Regions from separate parts of the Homo sapiens genome. Here regions 2, 3, 4 and 5 are each linked to region 1. The links come from fine-mapping of genetic effects on plasma protein levels. A gene starts in region 1. Each other region holds a variant in brackets. All regions are shown on one strand. Distances are between the middles of the regions.

Region 1 (5,106 bases):
TTTTAAGATAAGAGAGATTGAAGCTAATGCATATTATGTCTGTCCTCAAATATAACAAAGAAGAAACAACAAGTTAAAATCATGATCAGACAAACTTGTAGAAAAGTCAGTACCATGCATGGGAATTTTCTGCTGAGCAGCTTTATTTTTTTAAGACCTAAATTGAAGGAACGGATGCCCTGTATACATTTCAGAAGAAAAACTGCAGCCAAAAGATTTAGTGCTTAGATCGGAAAAGAAATCAGAAGACCTACTTTTGAACAAAAAGGAGAGAGAAGTAGGTAAAATAAGTGAATGATAAAAAATCCAACATCATTTGAAAGGTTTGTTCTCTAATCACTCTTAATTACCTGCCAATATGAAATGACCATGGAAAAAGGTACTGCATTGACTCCCAATTGACTTGAAAAGTTTTACAACTCAAAGAAACTGAAAAGTGTTGTTTAAAAAACTGCAAATAGGAAAATCTACCTCTGTTGAAACTTACATGTGGCTCTGACATGCACCCTTATCCAAGTCACTTCTCTTAGACTCTTAGTCTTTAATTGAAAAGGTCAGTTTTTCCATCCTTGCCAGCTACCTCCCAGGGTTCAGATGGAAAAATAATGACGTTTATCAGCATCATCTCTCCTCAACAAGACAGAGCAGTTGAAACCAGCTTCAACAAACAAATCAATAGCTATTTTATAAGGTAGCAAAAATAATATTCTCATGAAACTTGTTTTTGATCCTTAGCAATCTTACCTACTCCTGCGACCCACTGCAGATATTCCCACAAAATCTTTAAAGAAATCAAGATAAAAATAGCAAGAATAAACTTACGGGTAACGTGAATTTTCTCATGAATGCCACCCAAATCACCTCCAGGTGCCTGTCTTCATGACACACTGTTCTTTTTCACCCACTTGGGTAGAGAGAGAGAAAGAGAGAACAAACTTGCTATTAGGCAGACTTGGGAACGCTATTGTATGGACCTGCTCATAGGCAACCTATACAGTCTTTACGCTCCTACCCCACTCTCTAAAGGACATAAACCAGAAATCTCAAAAAACAAAAAAATACAAGCGCGTTCCAAATTATCTTGTGTGGGTATCCAAACGACTCAGTTATGTGGAGTTACTCCTTGAACTATCCAGCTCCCACTACAGAAAATTGAAAGAGCTTCCCATGCAGTTAAATGCCACTGTTATTCTGACAAACATGTGCCCGCCCCTATGTTGATTCCAGCAGGAAAACTAGAAAAAGTTCCACGACATTCCTTTCAGGAACTCCTCTTACAAATAAACCTCCAACACACCTCAAGATCCGGCCCACTCTCCTCCACGCAGACCACACACCCAGGGTGCTCAGTCACACTGACTCGCCCTACACAACCTCCGCCAGCTTCTTCGCACCGAATCTGCAGACCCTGGCCAGCAAGCAACCGCCTGATCTTCCCGACGCGCGAAGCCGCCTCCTCGCAGGAGCTTCGCTGCGAAATGTTTCCATGCAGCCGACTCTCTGGCTGGTTCAGAGGGATTCAGGAGCCCACGTCCTCCTACCCTCACCTCCACACCCTTCATAAATAGTAAAACATATACACGAAGCACAAGAGAGAAAATGCACGAAGATTTTGAGCCCCGCGTTCCAGAAGGAGAGTGAGTGGATTGGGGTCTGTGGGGCGCCCGGCGCACAGTTCGCCGCCGTCTGGGCCCGGGGAGGGGACGGGGCGGTTGTCTTGCCTCTCGAAAGAAACTGGAAACCCCCCAGAAGTTGCTGGAAACGAATGCCACCCAACAGGCTCCCGCGGCAGAGACTGGGGAAGCCAGGTACCTTCCCTAAGAGCAGGCACCTGGCCTGTCGCTCGCCGCCGCAGCCTCAGCGCTCAGCAGCCAGCCCGGCACCCAGCGGGCGCCACAGACATCAGCCTCCGTCTCCACGCGGCTCCTTCCACCACGGCTACGGGCTCCTGTTCCTTTAGTCCCAGGTCCCTCCACTCCCCAGGTTCGCGTCCCTCTGCTGCGGGCTGTGACTGGGCTGTCAGAAGAAAAGCCCCGCCGGGAACCCGGCGCCAGAGGCCAGGGCGCACGGAGAGGGGGCAGTAGCCCGAACCAGTCGGAGGAGCTGACTTGAAGGCTTCCCGCAGCATTCCGGGCTCTCGGTTCCTTGTTTTGTGGCTGCCTCGCAGCGCAACAAACTTATTTTCCGGCTGAGAAGGAGAAGAAGGGTCGCTGTGGGGTGACGGTGGCGTCGTCGGGGCCCTGAGTCCTCCGCGCTCAGGCGTTCAGCTCCCGCTCCCCGACCCTGCAGGGCTTCCGGGCTCTGAGCTGGACGGCCCCGCAGACGCTGCCCGGCCCCGCGGGAGTCAGAGCCCCGGGAAGCGCCCCTGTCCTTCGGGCAACCCGCGCGGACCCTGCCCTTTCCCCCCCACACCCGCGACCGCGTCCCCGGGGCATCGCGCGCCCACGCAGGAGCCGGACCCGCACAGCTGCCGCCTCACTTACCTCAGCACCGGGGCGCCGGGCTGGCGAGAGCCTCGGGTGCGGCGCCGGCACAGTCCGAGGGGCCCGGGGCGGCGGCGAAAGCTCCCTACTTGCAGCCAATCCTGGCGTCGAACCCCGGGCTCCGTCTGGCGCGGCGCTGCCCTCCCTCCCGGCGCTCGCGGCGGCTGGAAAAACCTGGCGCGCCGGAGTTCGGGCTGCCGGCTCCTTAGCCGCGGGGCGGGGGAGACGCTCGGGGAAGGGGAGAGGCGCGGGCGGGTGGGAACGGGCGGGAGACGAGCGGGGACGGGGAGACGCGCCGGAGGCCCGGAGCCCGCGCATGCTCAGTGCGCGGCCGGAGGAGGCGAGCGCTGGGGACGCAGCACCTGCCCCGCGCGGCCGAGAGGCGGCAGCCCCAGGTCCCCAGCGCGCGAAATTAGTAAAGGGCGCCTGGCCCGATTCTCAGGCAAGAGGAGATTATCAGCCGGATTCCCGTGCGGGGACGTAGGGGTTGCGTTGTTCAGCGGCCAGGGATGCGCCGAGGCGATGTCTCCTCCCTTTACAACCCGAGTATCGGGGCACGAGGAGGCGCGACCTTCCTGGGTACCCAAACCTCTGGCCTCCGGGAGACGCGGAATTCGGGGGATCGTTAAGGCGCCCTGGCCAGGGAAACAGATGCTTCTGCGTCTGGGCTGAAAATTGCTGAACCGGGGAATGTGGGTGGGCGGGTGGCATTGAACTTAGGCCAGAAGAGGGGGCTTTGGTAGGTTTTTACCTGCCTGTCCTTAGGCGGAGGACACTGGCTGGACAGGCTGCGTTACACACCTGAAGTCTCATCCACGCAAAGTGCTTTCAGGTTGGAATGTGGGGCGGGGGCGGGGGGAGGTCAGAGGGAACAGTTGCTGTAAATTAGGTACAAGGATCAATTTGTGGTGTGTTGTGCGCGGGGGTGGGGCATGTCGAAAGCCTTGTTATTCGAAAGAATGTGCTTTGAACGACGTTGCCACGGTCATTCTACATTATGAATCTACTGTTTCCTTGCAGAAGTGGCTCCCTTCGCCGCAACTCCACACCTCGGGGTAACCGTAGAGATTGGCAGCAATGCCCCAGCCCCTCACCAGCACTGTGCAAAGTGACTTTGACAGGCAGAGAAAAGCCAACCCAGTCGAATTCGTCTGGAAAGCATTCCAGCAACCCAGAGAGGAGCCTCTGTTTCTCTCTCTGGGAAAAAGCCCCAAGGGTTTTGCTGAACCCAGGTCTTCCTGCTCATCTCTCAGCAGTTCAGAGCTACATAAACAACTTCTGACCATTTACGCAATCATGTAAACCTACCCTGACATCTCCACTATGTGGAAAAGATGTTAACTGGAAAACTATTTTTAAACTACTGCAGTAAGCAAATAAACATCCAACTCCAACATATATATGCAGCAGCCTTATTAGTTCATTCAGTGTTGGTTTGGTTTGTTTGTTTTGTCTTCTGCTTTTTAGAATTAATTATTATCTTTATAATTCCTGTTCGAGAAGTGGGCAAAACCAGGCTAGTGATAGGTATTGTTGTGGTCAAATTTTTCATCACTTGAAATTCCATGACTTTCATGATTGCTGAGATTAATGCTAAATAAAGAAGTTACCCCCCCGCCCCCACCCCACCCCAACCTCCCCACCAAAGTTTCCTGATTACTTAAACTTGGAGAGAAATTTTCAGGCTTTTTCCTCCCTCCTTGCCTGGTATGTGTCTGTAATAGAGGTACTTTTGCAAAACTGGAATGTTGGTGATGCAGGTGTTTTCCATGGTAAACAGCCACTGAGGATCAATGGTTCCCAGGTTCCCACTCACTTTGAAGGCTTTTGTGCTTCTGCCGGAACTGTGACTTTTACTACCTGTACTATGTATGATTTTTTTTTACATTGATTATTTCTCTGCAACTAGTCAATTAAAAGTACATATATATAACTTTTAGTAAGACTGTTTATCAAAATATGCTTCACCAGAAGTTCTCCAGAAAATATTCCTGTGTAGTCATGCATACTCCTAACACATTAAAGGGAAATGTCGTGTTTTAGACTGGACACAGAATTTCAGAAAAGAACAAAGAATAAAATATGCTGTCACATTCTCCCACTGGGACTATACATTGAAGCAATTTTCAAAGTTTTATGACAATTTCAGGCAAAGTCCCTTAACTGTGTTTCTAAATTTCAAATGTACATATTTTGTTTCCATTCTCCCCTTTGGCCCTTATTCTGTGCCTGCTATATGCTAGGCATTGTCTTCTAGTAGATTCTGGGAAACAAACTAAACATGACCAAGACTTGCTCCACAGTTCACCATGTAGTTAGGAAAACAGACATTGTGTATCTGGAGAGACAGATTTGGGTCGTGTTGAGGGGATATCAGTTAAACGTTAAGTTAGGAGGAGGCATTTTTTCTTTTCACCAACACACCCCCACACTGATCCAGTGCTAAGCTTGTTCAGTCCCTCCCCAACATTTTCTCTAGAACAGCAGCTAGTTTAAAATGCAGCCAATAATCCAGTCCCTTTTTTCCATCCTGCAGCAAAGAAGCGATGCTCAGCTGCCACCTCTGCCAAGATAGAAAGCCTCTTGCGGAAGCTCCCAGGATTGGGGAGTGTTCCTAATAGAC
Region 2 (5,106 bases), 210 kb before region 1:
AACAGTCTTTAATTAGAAATTCATTGAATTTTGTCAGATCCAATAAGACATTAATGTTATTTCAGGGGGAAAGGTAGGTGTGTTTTTATTCTGTTTGCTTCTGATTCGGATATTTTCATTCCAGGCCACATTCCTTAGCTGTTATTTTTCATTCTTAAAAAATAAAAAAGTCTGGAAAACAGGAGGATAAAGTCAAGGGAGTCTTTTTGTTTATAAATCAAATGTGAAATTTTCAAAACACATCTACTGCTTTGAAAGACAGGTTGAATAGCTATCATTTGAGAGTTAACCGGATTTGTGCACTCAAGCACTGGCAGTAAGACAATTTTTCAGTATTCAAATGCAATCCTTTTATTTCTGTATTATAATAGAAAACAAGTGAGAGCACAGAACGAGTGAGTTTTAGGTAGTGGAGGGTTAAAAGCCTTTCATATACACAGATAATCATGGTAATTTTAGTTAAACTATCAAACAACACCTGAAGTCTCACAGGTGCTCGATATGCCATTGGGGTACAAGTGAAGCCATTTTTAAAAGGGAACAAGTAATGGTGTAGGTTTTAGGTCAAACATTACCTGCAGATGATGGCATAAAACTAAAAATAAGGAGAAAGTGTGATGAGGTAGCATGTGCTGAGGTGAAAAAGTGGGAAGGCGGTCCCTTATGCTGCAAATGTCTCCATAGGCTTTGTAAATCATAGAGGACATCACTTTTAGGGATAGCAAACAACAGACATTCTGCATTGTGACATAAAATAAAGCCATTCTCCCTTGTGCATGCTGTACTGACTGAGAAAAATTTCTCATGCAGATCCCATAGCTCCACAGTGTCAGTCATAGCCAATGTTAGCCTGGGGGACTTTAAAAATGATCAAGGCTAATCTTTTCATTTTATAGAAGAGAAAACTGAAGTTTATAAGAGTAGGAAACTTGAAAAGCACCCAATAAATTAGTTGAGGGCTAAAGCCAAGTCATTTGTCTGTTGCTGTAATACTCTTTCCCCTTATCGTAATGTCTCAATCATGAGAACACAAATTCATCCATCCATCCATCTGGTACCAACAGCTCTAAGACTTAGAAACTACTGCAGTATTTGATTGGAGTCTGATAAAATTTGAACATATTCCACCTGAAAACTAAAATAAGTTGATATAAAAAGAGGTAGGGACATAAACATCACCAGCATACCATAAAGTATTTAATACAAGTAAGCTTTTACTATTTCTATTTCCCACTATTTTACAGATAGGAAATATTTATGTAAGTATCAGTAAACAACATATATGAAAGCAAGCATGCCAGAATTGAGCTGGTCCTGAGACTTTCCACATGTGGAAAACAGAGGTGGCAAATGGTTTCTCTTTGATTCCATGTGCTCATTAGACATAACTTGCTTGTTCCACAAACTATGTCTAATGTATTTTTTAAAAACTCTATTAGTTGTCAACATTAAAATATTGAAGTGTTCCAAAAACTTAAAAATTCTGATTTCCACTCATATATTAAAAGACCAAGCATCACTGGGACTCCATTCTGAAATGGCAACAATTACCTAAACAGGGTATAATACATCTGTCATTTCCCTGCCATGTGAAGGCCTGGACTGCAGGGATGTTGATGGAAATGGGGAAGAAACAAGAGTCGCAAACAAAAAGAAATAAGTCATATAAAAAACAAGTAGGAAACACAGGCATCAATATTACTTTGTAATTATAGCAAATATAAATATATTAAGCGCTGTAATTAAAAGGTAGATATTTATACACTGGCTTTTAAAAAACACATGATCTAACTATATATTGTCTACAACTGAAATATTTTAGGTTCAAAGACAAAAACAGGCTGAAAGTTAAAAGACAGAAAAGGACATATGCAAACAGTAACCAAAAAAAGAGCTGGAACAGCATTACTAATATCACACTTCAATACTTTAAGCCAAAAATTTTAGTACAGATGAACAGATTTTATAATGAGAAAAGGGTCAATCTGCCAGTAAAAAATAATACCTATAAACTTACACGCACCTAAAAAACAAAGACTCAAAATAGAGGAAGGGAAACTGATAGAAATGAAAGAAGAAATAGAAAATTCAACAATAATAGTTGAAAAGCTTCAAAATCCTTCTTTAAATAGTGGAAAGAAAATCAGACAGAAGATCAAAAAGGATCCAGAAGATTTAACACCATAAACAAACTAGACCAGCAAACAGGTATAGAACACTCCACTCCAAACAGTAGAATACACATTCTTCTTAAGTGCATTGAAAACATTTTTCAACTTAGACTGTAAAAGATCTACAGACTATATTTTATATACATTTTTCCTACATTTTAGAGATATTGAAATATTAACGGTTTTATAAATAATATAAAAAATGATACAACAAACTTCAATGAGTTTAAAAGGAATAAAATCATAAAACGTTCTCTGACCACAATAAAATTAAATTAGCAATCAAAACTAAAAGCAAATTTGGGAAATTTGTAAATATGTGGAAAATAAATAACTTATCCATAAATAACCAAGGGGTCAAGAAAAAAATCAAAAGGGAAATTACTTTCAGACTTTGAGATGCATGAAAATGATAACAGAATATGCCAAAACTTAAAAGATGAAGCTAAAGCTGTGCTTCAAAGAAAATGTAAAGCTTTGAATGCGTATATTTAAAAAGAATAAAAATTTAAAATCAATAACTTAACTTTCCACCTTGAAACCCTGGAAAAGAAGAGCAACAGAAGGGAGAAAATAATAAAGACTGGAGTAAAATATAAAGGGAATTGCAAACAAAAAACAACAGAAAAAAATCAATGGAACAAAAATTGGGTCTTAGAAAATGTAAATAAAATTGACACAACTTTAGCTAGACTGACAAAACAATTGAGAAAATTCAAAATCCTAAAATTGAGAATAAAAGGGGGGATAACAACAGAATTTACAGATATTTTAATAAAAAGGATTATAAGGCAATTACTATAAACCACTACGTTATCAACAAATTAGATAATTTAGACAAAAATAGAAAAATTCCTAGAAAGACAAAAACTACTGAAATTTATTCAAGA[A/G]GAAACAGAAAATCTGAATAACCCTGTGTCAAGGAAAGTAAATAAATTAGTAATCAAGAAACTTCTCATAAAAAAGTCCATGAGCAGAAGGCTTCACCGGTACATTCCACAAAATGTTTATTGAAATTCTTCAAAAACTAGAAGACAAAGAAACACTTCCAGGCTCATTACATAAGCCCATTATTACCATGATACCCAAACCAGACAAGAACATCATAAGAAAGCTACAAATTAATACTCCTTATGAAGATAGACACAAAAATTTTCAAGAAACCAAATCTAGCAACAGATAAAAAGAATTATGACCACAACAGATTATTCAAGTAAAGCAATGATATAGACCAGATTATTCAAGTAAAGCAAGATTAATTCAACATATAAAAATCAATCAATGTAGCACACCATATTAATACAATAAAGAACAAAAGCCACATGATCATTTGATACATGCATAAAAAGTATTTAAAAAATGCAACACTCTTCCATGATAAAAAAACACTCAAGGAACTAGAAAGGAAAATCCTTGGAAGGAAGATCCTAAACCTAAAAAAGGGCACCTGCAGAAATGGGCATCTCACAGCTAACATCATACTTATCAGTAAAAGATGAAAGCTTTTCCCGTGAGATCAAAAAGAAGACAAGAATGGTTGTCTTGCTATTTTTTTTTTTTTTTTTGAGATGGAGTCTTGCTCTGTCGCCCAGGCTAGAGTGCAGTGGCACAATCTCGGCCCACTGCAAGCTCCGCCTCCCGGGTTCACGCCATTCTCCTGCCCCAGCCTCCCCAGTAGCTGGGACTACAGGCGCCCGCCACCACGCCCGGCTACATTTTTGTATTTTTAGTAGAGACGGGGTTTCACCGTGTTAGCCAGGATGGTCTTCATCTCCTGACCTTGTGGTCTGCCCGCCTCAGCCTCCCAAAGTGCTGGGATTACAGGCGTGAGCCACTGCGCCCGGCCTTGCTATTTCAATTCAATTGTAGTGGAGGTCCTAACTAGGACAATTAGGAAAAATAAAATAAAATAAAATGTGCCTAGATTGGAAGGAATGAACAAAACTATCTCAATTTCTTCTACATAGAAAATCCTATGGAATCCACAGAAAATTTTAGATTTAATAAACAAGTTCAAGCAAAATTCTAGGATACAAGTTCAATATATAAATATAAGTTTTATTTCTATACACTAGCAATGAGCAATTCAAACATGAAATAAAAAAATTTCATTTAAAATATCAAAAATAATAAAATACTTAGGAACAAATTTAATAAAATCAGTATATTAAAGATGTGTACACTGAAAACTAGACAACATCATTGAAAGAAATTTTAAAAAGACCTAAATAAATGGGAAGACATCCCGTGTTCATGGAATGGAATATTTACTAGTGTTAAGATTGCAATACCTCCAAATTGATTTACAGATTCTATGTAATCCTTGTAAAAGTTTAAGGTTGTTGTATTGCAGAAATTATAAAGATGGTCCTTATATTCATATGGAAATTCAAGACGCTCCAAGTAACTGAAACATCCTGAAAAAAAACAATGTCTGACGACTTAGACTACATAGCCAAAATATATCCAGAATATATCAAGAACTCTTATAATTAAATATTGAAAAAAGACCCAGTTAAAAAATAGACAAAAATTTGAACAGACATTTATCCAAAGATGATACACAACTGTCCAACAAGTACATGAAAGATGCTCAAATCATTAGCAATTAGAGACATGCAAATCAAATCCACAATGAGAAACACTTTCCATTCACTTAGATGACTATAGTTAAAAAACAAGCAACCACAAATCTAGCAACATATAGAGCTGACAAGAATGGGAAGAAATAAAAACCCTCATGCATTGTTGCTGAGAATGTAAAATGATGCAAACACTTTGGTAAACAGTTTCATTTATCACTCTTCAAAAAGTTCATCATAGCTTTACCATATGACCCAGCAATTCCACTCCTAGGACATCTAAGCAAAATAAAAGCATATTCCACACAAAACCTTGTACACAATATTCAAAGCAACATTATTTATAATTACAA
Region 3 (5,106 bases), 710 kb before region 1:
CAAGCTCTGCCTCCTGGGTTCACGCCATTCTCCTGCCTCAGCCTCCCGAGTAGCTGGGACTACAGGCGCCCGCCACCACGCCCGGCTAATTTTTTGTATTTTTAGTAGAGACGGGGTTTCACCGTGTTAGCCAGGATGGTCTCGATCTCCTGACCTCATGATCTGCCTGCCTTGGCCTCCCAAAGTGCCGGGATTACAGGTGTGAGCCACTGTATCCGGCCTCATTGTATCATTTTTATGCCTTTGCGTCCTCATAGCTTAGCTCCCACATATCAGTGAGAACATACGATATTTGGTTTTCCATTCCTGAGTTACTTCACTTAGAATAATAGTCTCCAATCTCATCCACGTCACTGCAAATGCTGTTTATTCATCCTTTTTATGGCTACATAGTATTCCATCATATATATATATATATATGCCATAGTTTCTTTAGCCACTTATTGATTGATGGGCACTTGTGTTGGTTCCACGATTTTGCTATTGTGAATTGTGCCACTATAAACATGCATGTGCAAGTATCTTTTTTAAACAATGACTTCTTTTCCTCTGGGTAGATACTCAGTAGTGAGATTGCTGGATCAAATGGTAGTTCTACTTTTAGTTCTTTAAGGAATATCCACACTGTTTTCCATAGTGGCTGTACTAGTTTGCATTCCCACCAGTGGTGTAGAAGTGTTCCCTGTTTACTGCATCTACACCAACATCTACTGTTTTTTGATTATGGCCATTCTTGCAGGTGTAAGGCGGTATCACATTGTGGTTTTGATATGCATTTCCCTGATCATTAGTGATGTTGAGCATTTTTCCTATGTTTTTTGGCTATTTGCATATCCTCTTTTGAGAACTGTCTATTCATGTCCTTAGTCCACTTTTTTGATGGGACTGTTTGATTTTTTTCTTATTGATTTGTTTGAGTTCGTTGTAGAGTCTGGATATTAGTCCTTTGTCAGATGTATAGATGACGAAGAGTTTCTTCCACTCTGTGGGTTGTCCGTTCACTCTGCTGACTGTTCCTTTTGCCATGCAAAAGCTCTTTAGTTTAATTAGGTCCCAGCTATTTATCTTTGCTTTTATTGCATTTGCTTTTGGGTTCTCTTGGTCATGAAATCCTTGCCTAAGCCAATGTCCAGAAGGGTTTTCCAATGTCATCTACTAGAATGTTTATAGTTTCAGGTCTTAGGTTTAAGTCCTTAATCCATTTTCAGTTGCTTTTTGTATAAGGTGAGAGATGAGGATCCAGAGTCATTTTATCTCCAAAGCCTTGGTACTTGGGTAATGATCAGTAGCAGCAGGCATTATGAGACGGAATATACATTATGGATAATGCTCTGTCACTGTGGCCATCACACTAATAGCAACAATAGAATTGACTTGCAGACTATATTGCAGTCATACCATGTGGCCAAGTACTTTTCTTATTTGATCTCATTGAATTCCATTACACTTTAAACTCCCAATTTATAGGTGACACAGCTGAAGCTCACGGAGGTGCAGCACCTTCTTCACGTGCCTAGGAAGTGGCCAGAAGATACAAACTCATGTTTTGTCTCTCTCCAAAGTTACTGCTCTGAAGCACCATAATCTGTGGCATCTTCACTGATTTCGTAAAGTCAGTGAAAAAGAGCTTTCAAATCAGTTACTTGCCATGCCAGGACACAAAAACGTTCATTTAAATAACATTTACACTCAGTGAATATGGAAAGAAATCCACATTTCAACACATAGTGTGATGGGTTGGTATAAGTACTTTGGTTTCAAATCTTCTATTCCTCTGCTTTTCTTTGTGGTTGGGCACTCAACATGGAGATTGTAAATGTTAGGTGCAAAGTGTGAAGTTGAACAAGGAGAAAATAAACAGAAACAACTCTATTAAGAAGCAGGATTGCTGCCTTGTTAGGAAGGTAGCTAAACAATTACACTTGGCTTGTATTCCGTTTAGCAATTGGTCACCAAAGATAGTATTGAATAAATAATGTGTATGTAAAACAAGGAATTAACATCCGTGCACCATTGTTTCTCAAAATAGCCTGTCTTTCAAGCTTTATATGTGGTTCATTGACATGTGATGTGTAGATTTTTAAAAAATAAATACCTCTACTTTTTGGTGTTGATTTCATTTGTCAGCATTTTACATAACTTTTTCCAACAGCCATGTGCTAAGGATTGTACAATTGTGTGGCAGATGTGTTTTCATATCATATTTGTGAAAACAGCTGTCCTTTATTCTCCTATGGAATGTAATACCTGAATTTCATTTTAAAATGAGATTAGAAAACATGCTATAGTATTTGGAATGTGTTACCTCATTGAGACCAGAGAGGAAGTGATTTAGCAGTTACATTCCTGGAGGAGTGGACGTGTACAAAAGCCTTAAAGCTGCAATATGCTATCAATAATAAAAAGTCTTAATATAGGAAAACATTTGGAATTCAGGCCATGGAGTAAATTAGAGAGCAAGGGGAAAATGTCCACGTATTTTTTGTCTGGGAAATTTTTAAATATTTAGAGCTGGGGAAGAAGTATCTTACCATAAATACCTGATTATAGTCTAGAGGATATAAAATCAAGAGGGTCCAAGATCTCTTTTGAGAAGTAATAACAGTAAATAAGAAAGAGTAATTTATTTAGGTCATAATTAATGGACTAGCCATTACACATATGGACAGGAAGAGCTGAAGCTATTCACAGGGTGGGATGACTCAGAGGAAGGTATAAAAAGTTTAGTTTTAAAATGGCCAGGAAAGGTTAATGAGATAATATCACACATCATAGTTTGTTAAGAATCCACAGAGAGAAGGGAGAAAAGAAAAAAAGGAAAAATGATACAGTAACCATGCATGTAATACATGTATTATTTAATGCAAGTAAAAAAATACCAATTCACTTTTTTCCTGACTTGGGTAGACCTGGATTCTATTAATTCTCCCAGGTTGGCCTTAGAACAAGAAATTGTCAGCACCAGTTCCCTTTGTTATTGCTTCCTTTT[A/G]AAAGACGCAATCAGTAAGGAGATGAACATCAACTTGGAAAAATGGTCAAGTGATACATTTGTTATGAATATGATCTCCATAATGATGACTGCACCATTTATAAAAAGAAGTATTTTTGGAGAGTAACTTTAAAAACTCACTATCATGCAGCAAATTTAAAGTTATGTCTTGACTCTCTGCCATTTGCTCCCTGTGTGTGTGTGTGGATGCACACTTTATGGTTTCCTGGATTGAAGAGACTTGTAGTGAAAATAAATCGAAATTTACAAAACCTGAGTTTCAAAGTCGTATTTTTGACATTCTTTCCATTTAGGAAGAAGGAAGACTGGACTTCCCTGTAAGAGAGTATATAGCAAGAGGAAGAACTGCCTGATGGTTTAACACCCTGGTTTTGGAGTCAGAAGGACCTGAGTACAAACTTAGCACTCTTACTTTCTACCTGTATGATGTAGGTGAGTTAGTTAATCTCCTTGAACTTCAATTCTCACTTCTAATGTCAGGACAATAATTCCTGTCTCATAGGACTTTCTGAAGATTAAGATCATGCATGTAAAGCACTTAAGATGCTGCCTGGTCCAAAGTCAGTAGTCTATAAATGTTAGCACTATCAGTATGACTTTTGAGCATCCAAAGGAAAGTTTACAGAAAGTGACTCACTGGGAGAACTTCCACCGGATAAAGTAACATTAGAGTGGCCAAGTCAACACTACTGTGGCAAAAAAACAAAAAAACAAAACAAAACAAAAAAAACAAACCTGATAAGACTTAAAATATATCCTCTTCTGCTAGTCCTAATTATGCTTTCAAGTCAAGATTGATGCTGAAGTGAATCAGATATCTTATCCTTTATATTGCATGAACTGTATTCTTTATAACACTTATATTTAAGATATACGCACTATACCCTGGATTCAGATAATTCTTCATGAGAAATTCTTCCTATAATCTTCTGGTCTGAGAATGCTTGTGTTACTTAAAAATATTGTTTCTATACAACAGTAAAATTGATATTTGTCTACCTTTTTAAAACTTTTAAGTTTAGGGGTACATGTGCAGGTTTGTTACAGGTAAACTTGTGTCATGGGGGTTTGTTGTACAGATTATTTCATCACCCAGGTATTAAGCCTAGTACCCATTAGCTATTTTTCCTGATCCTCTCCCTCCTCCCGCCCTCCACTCTCTAACAGGCCCCAGTGTGTGGTGTTCCCCTTTATGTGTCCACGTGTTCTCATCTTAGCTCCGACTTGTAAGTGAGGACATGTGGTATTTCGTTTTCTGTCAATTTGCTGAGGATAACGGCCTTACCTTTTTTAAAGGATGTAAATATATGTGATTTTTGGCTGGGCACAGTGGCTCATGCCTGTAATCGCCGCACTTTGGGAGGCCAAGGCAGGCAGATTGCTTGAGGTCAGGAGTTCGAGACCAGCCTGGCCAACACGGGGAAACCCTGTCTCTACTAAAAATACAAAAATTAGCTGGGTATGGTGACATGTGCTGTAGTCCCAGCTGCTCTGGAGGCTGAGAGGCAGGAGAATTGCTTGAACCTGGGAGGCGGAGGTTGCAGTGAGCCGAGATCGCGCCACTGCACTACAGCCTGGGTGACAGAGCAAGACTCCGTCTAAAAACAAAAACAAAAACCTGACATTAATTACCCCAGTTTGTTGGCAGTCGAAAGTAAGGGACTAGGAGGTCGGGCACATATGTAGTCCCAGCTACTCGGGACGCTGAGGCAGGAGAATGGCGTGAACCCAGGAGGTGGAGCTTGCAGTGAGCTGAGATCAGGCCACTGCACTCTAGCCTGGGCGACAGAGCGAGACTCTGCCTCAAATAAATAAATAAATAAATAAATAATAAAATAAAAATAAAGTAAAGGACCAAAACTTTTTTTTTTTTTTTGACACTGAGTCTTGCTCTATCGCCCAGGCTGGAGTGCAGTGGTGTGATCTCAGCTCACTGCAACCTCTGCCTCTTGGGTTTAAGTGATTCTCCTGCCTCAGCCTCCAGAGTAGCTGAGATTACAGGCACCTGCCACCATGCCCAGCTAATTTTTGTATTTTTAGTAGAGACAGGTTTCCCACATTGGCCAGGCTGGTCTCGAACTCCTGACTTCAAGTGA
Region 4 (5,106 bases), 19 kb after region 1:
TTTTGTAAAACTTCTATGCATTATATTTTCAGATACTGCTCCTGCCTGATTCTATAGTTTCCTTTTGAACTCCAATGACTTATCTGTTAGAACTTCTTAATTTATTTCCTAGGTTTATGGCTATCTCCTTCATATTTTTCTCTTTCCTTTTTCTTTTGCTCCTTAATATTCAATCTGGATAATTTCTTCTGATTCACATATTAGTTTACTATTTTTCTCTCCAGCTATGCCTAATTCTGCTTTCTTAATATACAAAGAGTGTGTAACTCCAATTTTTGTGCTTTCAATTCTATTTGATACTAAAACAAAGATCCTAATCTTTTTTGAGTGTAATAATCTTAATTATTTTAAAGTCTGGTTTTAATAGCTCCTTTATTCAGAACCCTTATGAATCAGTTCTTATTTCTATTGTCTGTTCTCTAACGCTCCATGTGGTCTTTCTTCCTCATGTGACTGGTTATTTTTGATTCAGTGTGAGACATTTTGTCTGAAAAGTTGTAGAAATGATTTGAGACCTAGGATGATATGGCATTTTTCCAGACAGCATTTATAGTTGATTCTGACAGGTGGCCAGGTGAAATAGCAATCTCAGTTTACCTTAATCCTGTTGTAAGGATTACAGGTCATACTCTTCCTAAAGAGTAGCCTGACATGATCCTAACCTACAGAATGGTGGGTTTACCAACCTACTCTTTTTAGAAGTCCTAGACTCCCCTTACTCCATGAAACTGTTAAAAGCACTGATAATTTTCCCTGTCTTTCAGCACCTCTACCAGAATCAGAAATGGCCTTGAGAAACAACAGCCTCCAAGTCCATTCTAACCTTCCTGACTTTCCTACTTAAAGCTGTTCATTGTCTTGTTAGCTCTCCAATGCCTGCAAATGATGTAGGGTTTTTCTTTTCGGTCACTTTGCAAGCCAAGAATCCCCAGCTGGCAGTGATACCCTGCCCGGACCTCACTCGGCCACACTGATGTGTCTCAGCTCACCTGTGTTATAGTTTATAACTGTGTTTAGTGGTTCCCGAGTTCTTGTACCATCCCCCAAAAGAATGAGAATATGCGGGACATTGAAGAGTGAGGAGGGCAGAGAAGCATTTACTTGAGCAATGAAAATGGCTTTCAGTGGAGAGGAGACACAAGGAGATTGATCCCCTACCAGAAGGTGAGAGAGTTCCCCATGTGACTAGTTCTGGGGCCTTTTATGGACTCAGAATGGGGAGTGTGTGCTGATTGGTTTGTGAGTATGCAAAAAAGGTTAAAGGGAAGACACCATTCAAAGCTGGGCAAGACAGTGTAGAAAAACCAATTAGCAAAGGGTAGGTATATGTAAAATAGGTGAAGGGTGGAGACCAGTCAGGGGAAAGCATGCCAAACAGAAAGACAAGTTCTCAGTCGGGTCCAAGGATGTAACTTGTAGCTTGGCTTTCAGGCTTTAAACTGTCTTCGTCTTGCAGGTGGGGTTTCACCAAGGACCCACCCCTGTCTGCCTAGAATTTCTCTGCCTCCTGCCTCTATCACAAGCATATTTTTAAAAAGATTTTATTCAGTTTGTCGTCAAGGAGATGGGTGGTGTTAATTACCTACTCTGCCCTTAACTGCATGGATGTCTCAGCAGTTTCTGTTATTATCCTGTTTTACTGATTAGGAAACTTAACCGTGTTCACACATGTAATGAATGAGAGACTGAGGGAAATTGATATGTTTACAGTATTAGGCTTTCTAATTCGATAATGCTCTTTTTTTTTGCTATTATAGGTATTTATTTTAAAAGAAAAGAAAAGCAAAATCTACCAATAATTTTATTCATACAATTCAGCTCAATTAATATATATTAAGCATTTATGTACCAAGCACTCAGTAAAGTACTAGGGAGCAATAATGTAGAGACAAAGCATGTAAGATGCTTTCTCTTTCTCAATTCTCAATCTAGTGCTTAGGATAAAGCTACTATAGTTCATAAATATAGATGGTTATTATTTTTATTTAGCCTGTGACATGCAAGAGTAATTATTTTGGATCAAATGCAAATTCTATTCAACAAACATATATTTATGTCCAAACATATCTATTTATTCATCTATCTTTGTAACGAGAAATGTCTGCTATTAAGCCTATACTTCAGTGTCCCTCCGATTGTGGTTAAGGATCCCTTATATCAGAATCACATGCAGTGCTTGTTAAAAATTAGACTCCGGGATCCAGCCCAATTTAAGAAACTATGAATTTCTTTTGATAAGGCCCTTGGAAACTGCAGAAACACCCAGATGATTTTCATGCACATTAAATATGGATATCGACTACCTTAAATATATTTGGGTTATTTATATCCCCTAAAATAACTTCTCTCACAGCTTATTTTTTCTTGGACATTTTATCCTTTTTGGGGACCTTAATTACCATCTGGATGTGGATAAATGTTAAATTTCTATCCTCATTCTAAACCTTTTTCCTGAGAACTGGACTTATATGTCCATTTGCCTTCAGAACAAATCTGTGTGAATGTGTCATAGGCAAGAATGTCTAAAATGTGCCAATTTTCTGGACT[A/G]TTCTCTTAACTCATTCCCCTTTTGGTCATACTCCTTAGTTGCTGTCAGAGTAAAAGGCTTTACTGTCCATCCATCTTCCCAAGCAAAGAACATGATCTTCACCCTAAATTCCTCTATCCTTGTTCAACATATTGATGAAATTGAAAGTCTGGTTTAGTAGATTTCATAGATATATCCCAAGTCAATCAAATTCTCTCCATGTCTATTGATATAATATAGGCTTTAGATTTCTCTAGGCTGGATAATAGAACTTACTTTAAAATATAAAGCATTTTATATTTTAAAAGTCCTAGACTCCCCTTACTCCATGAAGCTGTTAAAAATACTGATAATTTTCCCTGTCTTTCAGCACCTCTTCCAGAATCAGAAATGGCCTTAGAGAAATAGAGCTCTTTATTGCCTTGTTACTCTCTGATGCTTGTAAATGATGTAGGATATTTCTTCTCAGTCACTTTGCAAGCTGGGGACCCTTGGCCAGCAGCGACACCCCACCTGGGCCTCGGCCACCATAGCATTCCCCAGCTTGCCTGTGTTATAGCTTGTACCTGTGTTCAGCGGTTCTCAAGCTGTTGTACCACGTCCCAAAAGAATGAGGATATGCGGGACATTGAAGGGTGAGGAGGGCAGAGAAGGATTGTATTGAGCTATGAAAATGGCTTTCAGTGGAAAGGGGACGGGGTGGGATGGATACCCTACCTGTCCTACCCTACTCATCCTACCCTTACCCTTAAAATACAAAGCATTTTATATTGTAGGCTCTTGTACCTGTAAGCACCAAATCAGAATCACCTGCCATGATGGTTAAAAATTCATGTAACTGGGCCCTACTTCATACTTACTAAATTGTAGCTATAGGACTGCGGCCCAGGAATCTGTTGTTTAATAAATATCTCTGGGTAATTCTAATGCAAATTTAATCTTCTTCTTATAAAACTGGATGCTTTCACTAGAGACAGCAAAAAGGGGTTAAATATAGAATAAGGCAATTGAATAGCGTGCATAAAGAATGTCGGATATGAAAGAAACCAGAGAGATAACATAATCCAAACTCTTAACTGCACAGAGGAAAAGCTGAGACATAGAGGGTCACCCAGCTAGTTAGTGATAGACTCAGAAAAAGAAGCCAGATCAGGTGACTTTCAGTCAAGCACTTTATTATACTGTGCTGCTTCCCTCTTTTCAGTATGTTCCAAACTAGAGATTATTTTAGGAAACTTATTTAGACCAACTAGAATTTGGTAATGATGTTATAAATACCCCAATGTTACCTCGCATGTAAAATATGTAACTTGTTCATGTTTTTGTTAAAAAGAAATCAGCTATTTGCTTTTATGGTCAAGATTTTGAAATGCTTTTAAAGAAAACCAGTGCATACTTTTTATAAAGGAAAAAAATGTACTTCATAGGTTTTTAAATGTAAACCACAAATGTAATTGAAATCATTTTAATTGTAAGGCAAGACTGAATTTACAGCCTAGGAAAAGTCAATGTAAGCAATTATAAGAAACTCCTAAAGCTTATGCCCTCAAAGTATGCGAAGATATTTTAATTTAGATTTAAAGACACCATCTACCTAGAAAACTTAAAGGAAGAATATACTTGTTTAACTTCATTATCTAGCTCTGAACTCGACATTGTGTTAAAAAAGTAATGGTTTCCTTCCAATTATTAAAGAGGCATGTATTTTAGAAAAGGGAAGAGATGTTTAAATGCCTTATTAAAACTTGTTCAAAATGTCTTGCATAAACCAAAAAAAAGTTTCAAATTTGGGGGAAAAACTAGCAGTTTCAAGATTTGTGAAACTGAAACTATATTAGCACTCTAAATTTTCTTGAAAATATCTTACAAACCTTTGCCCATGGATGAAAGGAAATAAAATATCATTTGGCTCTGTGTCCCCACCGAAATCTCATCTCAAATTGGAATCCCACACGTGTCAAGGGCTGTAATCCCCACTTGTTGAGGGATGGAAGTGATTGGATTATGGGGCAGTTTCCCCACTGCTGTTCTCATGATAGTGAGTGAGTCTCATGAGATCTGGTGGTTCTAAAAGTGTCACTTTTTCCTGTGCCCGCTTTTATTCTCTCTCCTGCCGCCTTGTGAAGAAGGTGCTTGCTTCCCTTCACCTTCCACCATGGTTCTATCTCTCCCGAGGCCTCCCCAGCCAAGTGGAACTGTGAGTCAATTAAACCTCTTTCCTTTACAAATTACCCAGTCTATGATATTTCTTTATAGCAGTGTGAAAATGGACTAATACAATCATCATCCTCAAGTAGTCACTTATTGGGCAGATCCTGTGAGCCCAGGGCTCAGATTAGGGCTTTCTCAGTGTTCCTGCTTAGTAGCCCTGTTGTAGTCAGACAAGATTCTCTGTGTGAGAAGGTTTCTTGCCCCTTTCCCTGGGGAGGTGGATTTTGCTACTATCACTTTCCCCTGAAGTAGTGAATCTTTGCTTGGGTCTTGGGAACTGGAGGATTTCATACTCTTCCTCCAGTAGATTAAGCGTCTAAAACATTCTCTGTTTTTCTTTCTTTCATTTGTTTTTTCCGTTTTGAGAC
Region 5 (5,106 bases), 940 kb before region 1:
AACATGGTCCCATTCTGAGCATCATCTTTAAAACAACATAGACGAACTCCAAAGGTAACGAAGACTGTGTGAGAGGCATCCCGAGAGCAGGGATAGCATGGAGGTGATAATAATGTGTGAGAAATGTTAAACATAATGATGGTGTGGATGACAGTGAGCGCAATCACACTGCTTCATGACTTACTCTTTTCTTTAATAAGTGAGATTTTTTTTTTTTTTTGAGATGGAGTTTTGCTCTTGTTGCCCAGGCTGGAGTGCAGTGGTGCGATCTCGGCTCACCGCAACCTCCGCCTCCTGGGTTCAAGTGATTCTCCTGTCTCAGCCTCCTGAGTAGCTGGGATTACAGGGATGTGCCACTACAACTGGCTAATTTTATATTTTTAGTAGAGATGGGTTTTCTCCATATTGGTCAGGCTGGTCCCGAACTCCCAACCTCAGGTGATCCACCCGCCTTGGCCTCCCAAAAGTGTTGGGATTACAGGTGTGAGCCACAAGTACCATATGCTTTATGAAAATACAAGTGGTAAGAAAATGCAAATTATATTTTGATATTCACTTAAAGGCAAAAATAAAATTCTTTTGAAAGTAATGATAACATATAGATAGATATGAAGATCTTATATGGTATTTGCAATTCTGGTCCTTAGCAATGGAATCAATAATGGACAGCCAAGTGTTTTCATATACAGAGCAGTCGCTATCTTTTCAAGAGATTCATGGTGGACAGCGAACCAAATTGTTTACATTATCCTCTTCTCAAATCAGGTATGCCTTCAAGATACATGTACCATGCGAAATTGATTGTACGTGCTACAATCCACATTTTAGAATTGAAGAAATATTAACAGTCAATGATCTAGGCAGCATAAACGATACCTTCTTCTGCAGAATACACCACCGTGGTGGGACTGAAAGGGCCTTCTCCTTTGTTGTTGAAGACACCTACTTTAACCTCAAAGGGAGAGAAGGGGTGCACGCTCTCATTCCTGAACACGTATCTAGAGGCATCAGCTGAGGCCAGCACTGTCAGCATCCAGATCATTTTACCGTAGGGCCGGAAGGCCACCACATAACCAAAGCCTCGACCATTCTGTAATTCCTCAGGGACCGTCTGGGAAAGAAGGAAGGTGGTCTTCAGAAATCACAGTAGTTTCACTCAAATGCAAAAATCGTTTTTGTTTCCCTTGTAACATTCTTGTCTACATCCTTCTCCACCCATCTTATTTGGCGTTTTGTTAACAGTCTTTTAAATTTAGGGCTTGCAGTCAGTCTATCTTAAACAGTTATGATGTACTGGACAGGGTTGAAAACGTAATGAGGATCTGCAGTCCAGAGCTTGCTCTTTGATGGGGCAGACCCAGCTCTGAAATGGTTGGAAATGATTGTAAAAAAAAAAACACTGGACATCGGTCTCCTGAAAAACCACATTTCCAACACGTATCCTCTAATACTAATCTTCTTCCATTGCCAAATAGACAAAAGATCTCACTGAAGGAAGAAAAACCATCTTGGCTGAAGATCCTCCCTCTCAGAGGGAAGAGTTCAGCTGGAGGGATGAGTGATTTCTTTCACTGCTGTGCTTTGGGTAAATGAGAGATTTTAATTTCTGGGGCTGTTTAGAATCTTTCAAAAACATGAAGAACCCTTTCTAAAGCTCCCACCTCTTCTCTCAAAGCCAATTTTTAATAAATTGGTGACTAACTTTCCTCCAGGTTGTTTTAAAAAATACCTCCTAAAAGAGGGCCCCTTCTAGAAGCAAAGCCAATTGCCAGGAAATTGTGCTGGTGCACTGAATCTATTGCTGGCAGACGTTTTAAATCAATTGGCCATGCAGCAATTCAGGAAGAAAAGAAAAACTAGTTTTCTCTGAAACAGCCTTCTTTATTTTTTTTTGTAACGTGTGTTGTCTTCCCTTCATAATTGTTTTTACTGTGATGGATTGAATTAAAACTTGCCTCAACAATGGATGGGCAAGTGCCGTCCTTCCTGCTAGCCATTAGCTACGTGAGAGGGAGTGTCTGAACCCAAATGAATTTTCACTGTTAAAAACAGAGGAGGAAACTTCCCAGCTATGTCTAACATGGAGGAAAATAATAAAATAGCTTCGATGCGTGTACGTTCCTTTTATTCTGTGATTCATTTACCTCCCAGGTTATAACCAGTTCAGATTTGCTGCCTCCGCCACCACTGACATTCGCTGGTGTGACTTCGGGGACTGCA[C/G]AAGGAGACAAAAAACAAGTTATGTCAGGCGGCAAAGGCGAATGAGGGCCAGGAAGGTTGCCTGGCAGAGGTGACTCACTTTCAGTGAGTACTCTGAGGCACGCCCCTTTGTCTCTGGAGATCAGCAACAGCATTGTCAAGGGGCCCACGGCGACCGCTCGAGGAAGTGAAATGTACCAAGGAGACTGCTATTAATTACCTGTTTCCCATTCAACAAGGCACACGTGTTATCTGACACGTCTGACCAATTGTTCAGCTCCATCCCTAGAGGCCGAGGGGTTCCCGAAGGGAGGAAAGGACTGAAGTCTGGTCCTAATGTTTGGTTATGCGTTTATGAGCCACGTGGAGATACACAAAGGGAAGAGTACAAGCTCTGCCCAGGCAGAGCTTACAAGCTGGTTGGAGTGGAGGAGCGCCTGCACCAGTTAGAGCAAGGTCGACAACCAGGGTAAGGAACAGTCAGCATGGAGAAGCGGGGGGCGTTCCGGAGTAGCGCCCTGCTCAGAGCTGGGGTGGGCGAATGGCTTCTGGGAGGAAGAGTTTTGATCTGAGTGTTGAAGGAAGTGGCAGACAGAAGTTGACCCCCGGCTCACTGAGCTTAACCTCTTTGATCACCAGTTTTCTCTATAAAAGAGAGGAAATTATGCGAGCTTCCACCTCAGGATTGCTGAGGGGAATTAATTCAATTATGGTTTTGGAAGGGGAAAAGAAAGCAGGGGACTAGCTATATTGTCATCACGTAACTGAAAGGCTCCGGGCCACATTTAAAAAGGTCTCACTGGGGTATGTGGCTGGTGACTGGGTATGTCTCCTTGGTTAAAGCCAATCAAATAGATCTAGATGAGTTTTTGCTTTTCTGAGAGTAGGGTCAGAACTCCTATTTGTGTAGGGACCTTATTATTCCTTCAACACACTGGCCTCTCTACAGGCGGGAACTCTATAAAAGACGGCACATGTAGGCCTCTTGCTTTACACCAGCTAAGTAAAAGTACGGCTGACCCTGATGAACTTGTTCTTCTCTCCCCGTGCTCATTCAAGCTGCATATGCAGAGGGCCATACTGAATTGCTGACTGGTCTTGTTCGAATGAGCACGATGTTCTGAATCTTCGTTTCTGGGAATGGTTTATACCCTAAGAAAGATAATCTAAGTGAACATTTCTGAAGAAATTATTTTTTATTTCTATTCTAAACAGGATTACCCCATGGTGGCTGTGTCCAGAGCAGTCACAAATTATTCTTTGCCATTAGTTACTTATGTGAGATAATTTTATTTGAAATGTGGGATTTTTTTTTGAAATTCTGTTAGAATCTTGGTGACAAATGAACCAATGAAGAAAGGGCTGGCTTTTGAGAGGACTAAGCACCGTGTGTCTCTTGCTGTACAAGTGGACCTAATGAAGAAAACAACTCTTGATTGAAACCCGTTGCGTGTTCAGCTGGGCTTCTCCTGGCCTGATTTCTATCATTATAAACATTTAAAGGGAAGGGTGAGCTAACACAGAGCCGCATGAGCGCTGAAGAGCAGCAAGAATTCAAACGCTTTTCCTAAGGAACAGCAGCTGGCAGAACAGATGATCTGAATCTCGGGTGCTACTCACGAGCTTCTTCTGTTCTCCGTTTCTCTGAGGGGCGGCTGGGCTCCCCAATCCCAATCACGTTGGCTGCAACTGTGCGGAATTCATATTCAACCCAAGGGTTCAAACCCACCACGGTCGCTGTGAATGTCTTCCCATCAATGAGTTCTGGGACTGAAAGACAACAAAAGGTGGGGGCTGTTTCATAGGTTCTCAGAAAACAAATGCAGAGATTACGTTAGGAAGATAGGAACATCCATCCATCCTCATCATTATTGTATTCAGGGCAGTGTAGGTGTTCTGATATTAGCTGCATCAACAGTTGTTTCAGTGAGGTAATCTCAGAACTATCTCTGTATGTTAAACTAACACACTCTAATCAGATACCAGCAGATGACATCATAAAAGACACACAGTCCACAAGACCCCAAACTACCTGACTCAATCATTACTATCACCCCTTCACATGTGTTTCCGCATTTATTGTATAGTGCCAGACACACTATTTCAACTATCCTCTGAGAAAGGTAAAAGTATTATATTCTTTTTTTCTTTTCTTTTTTTTTTTCTTTTTTTGAGACAGGGTCTCTCTCTCTCTCTCTCTGATGCCCAGGGTAGAGTGCAGTGGCACAATCTCGGCTCACTGCAACCTCCACCTCCCAGACTCATGCAATTCTTGTGCCTCAGCCTCCTGAGTAGCAGGGACTACAGGTGCATGCCACTATGCCTGTCTATTTTTTTTTTGTATTTTTAGTAGAGACGGGATTTCGCCTCATTTCCCAGACTGCTCTCAAACTCCTGGGCTCAAGCGATCCACCCGCCTTGGCCTATCAAAGTGCTGGGATGACAGTTGTGAGCCACTGCGCCTGGCCTATATTCATTCTTAAACAATTCTTATTGTGCCCATTTAACAGAAGAGGAAAATGAAGATGTATAGAGATCAGCTGATTAGCAGTCAGGTCTAGAATTCATCTCCTAACTTCTATATTTTTCTCATATTTCCTTCTTAAAGCACACCTGTGACTCAGTGATTACAGAAGGAAACACAGAAACCCATTTCTAAGGATTAGTAAACTAAAGTGAAAAAAACAAATGGGTTAAAATCAACAAGATTTATATGAATTGCTCAACACTGGGCATATTCTCCTTCAAAACATCAAGGCCATATAGCCTACTTTTGCTGTCTAGAGGAGTGTGTATCTTTGTTTGTAATAACTACTTGTTCATCCAATTTATCCTTAAATGAAATCTAAATAAGAAAATGAGTCAATTTGGAGGTACTGACAGAGTGGGGTTGGTATAAGAATTCTT

Alleles and levels. Positions count from the first base shown, and alleles are read on the strand shown. Strength reflects both the effect of a copy and how common the allele is. Not every link is listed here.
For the plasma level of the protein whose gene starts at base 2,596 in region 1, allele A in region 2 goes with a higher level than allele G (weak association).
With allele A in place of G in region 3, the plasma level of the protein whose gene starts at base 2,596 in region 1 is higher (moderate association).
With allele C in place of G in region 5, the plasma level of the protein whose gene starts at base 2,596 in region 1 is higher (weak association).

What was found. PIP is the chance, under the fine-mapping model, that this variant and not a neighbour inherited with it causes the effect. The UK Biobank Pharma Proteomics Project read protein levels with antibody pairs (Olink). The fine-mapping took linkage between variants from a reference panel, not from the people measured, so its PIPs are less certain.
Region 2: its variant is fine-mapped to the plasma level of the CNTN4 protein (UK Biobank, PIP 0.99).
Region 3: its variant is fine-mapped to the plasma level of the CNTN4 protein (UK Biobank, PIP above 0.99).
Region 4: its variant is fine-mapped to the plasma level of the CNTN4 protein (UK Biobank, PIP above 0.99).
Region 5: its variant is fine-mapped to the plasma level of the CNTN4 protein (UK Biobank, PIP above 0.99).

The regions. Positions count from the first base shown.
Region 1 is chr3:2,096,356-2,101,461 of GRCh38, reverse strand. CNTN4 (contactin 4) reads right to left here and starts at 2,596. Exons shown (of 25, transcript NM_175607.3): 1 at 2,484-2,596; 2 at 823-904. It overlaps LOC124909338 (a long non-coding RNA gene), which reads left to right and starts at 3,207. Exons shown (of 2, transcript XR_007095785.1): 1 at 3,207-3,315; 2 at 3,504-3,881.
Region 2 is chr3:2,306,065-2,311,170 of GRCh38, reverse strand. All of the region lies in intron 2 of CNTN4 (contactin 4), which reads right to left. Among named protein-coding and RNA genes, the nearest start is that of CNTN4-AS2, 160 kb to the right of the region's middle. The variant A/G (reference allele first, on the strand shown) is at 3,062.
Region 3 is chr3:2,811,188-2,816,293 of GRCh38, reverse strand. The region is part of intron 6 of CNTN4 (contactin 4); the gene reads right to left. LOC105376926 (a long non-coding RNA gene) reads left to right here. Exons shown (of 3, transcript XR_001740398.2): 3 at 3,304-3,360. Among named protein-coding and RNA genes, the nearest start is that of CNTN4-AS1, 250 kb to the left of the region's middle. The variant A/G (reference allele first, on the strand shown) is at 2,990.
Region 4 is chr3:2,077,613-2,082,718 of GRCh38, reverse strand. No RefSeq gene overlaps it. Among named protein-coding and RNA genes, the nearest start is that of CNTN4, 19 kb to the left of the region's middle. The variant A/G (reference allele first, on the strand shown) is at 2,548.
Region 5 is chr3:3,036,042-3,041,147 of GRCh38, reverse strand. It overlaps CNTN4 (contactin 4), which reads right to left. Exons shown (of 25, transcript NM_175607.3): 18 at 3,820-3,969; 19 at 2,145-2,215; 20 at 877-1,111. It overlaps CNTN4-AS1 (CNTN4 antisense RNA 1), which reads left to right. Exons shown (of 4, transcript NR_046554.1): 3 at 1-103; 4 at 766-1,487. Among named protein-coding and RNA genes, the nearest start is that of CNTN4-AS1, 23 kb to the left of the region's middle. RefSeq lists enhancers at 2,492-2,601, 1,836-3,035. The variant C/G (reference allele first, on the strand shown) is at 2,221.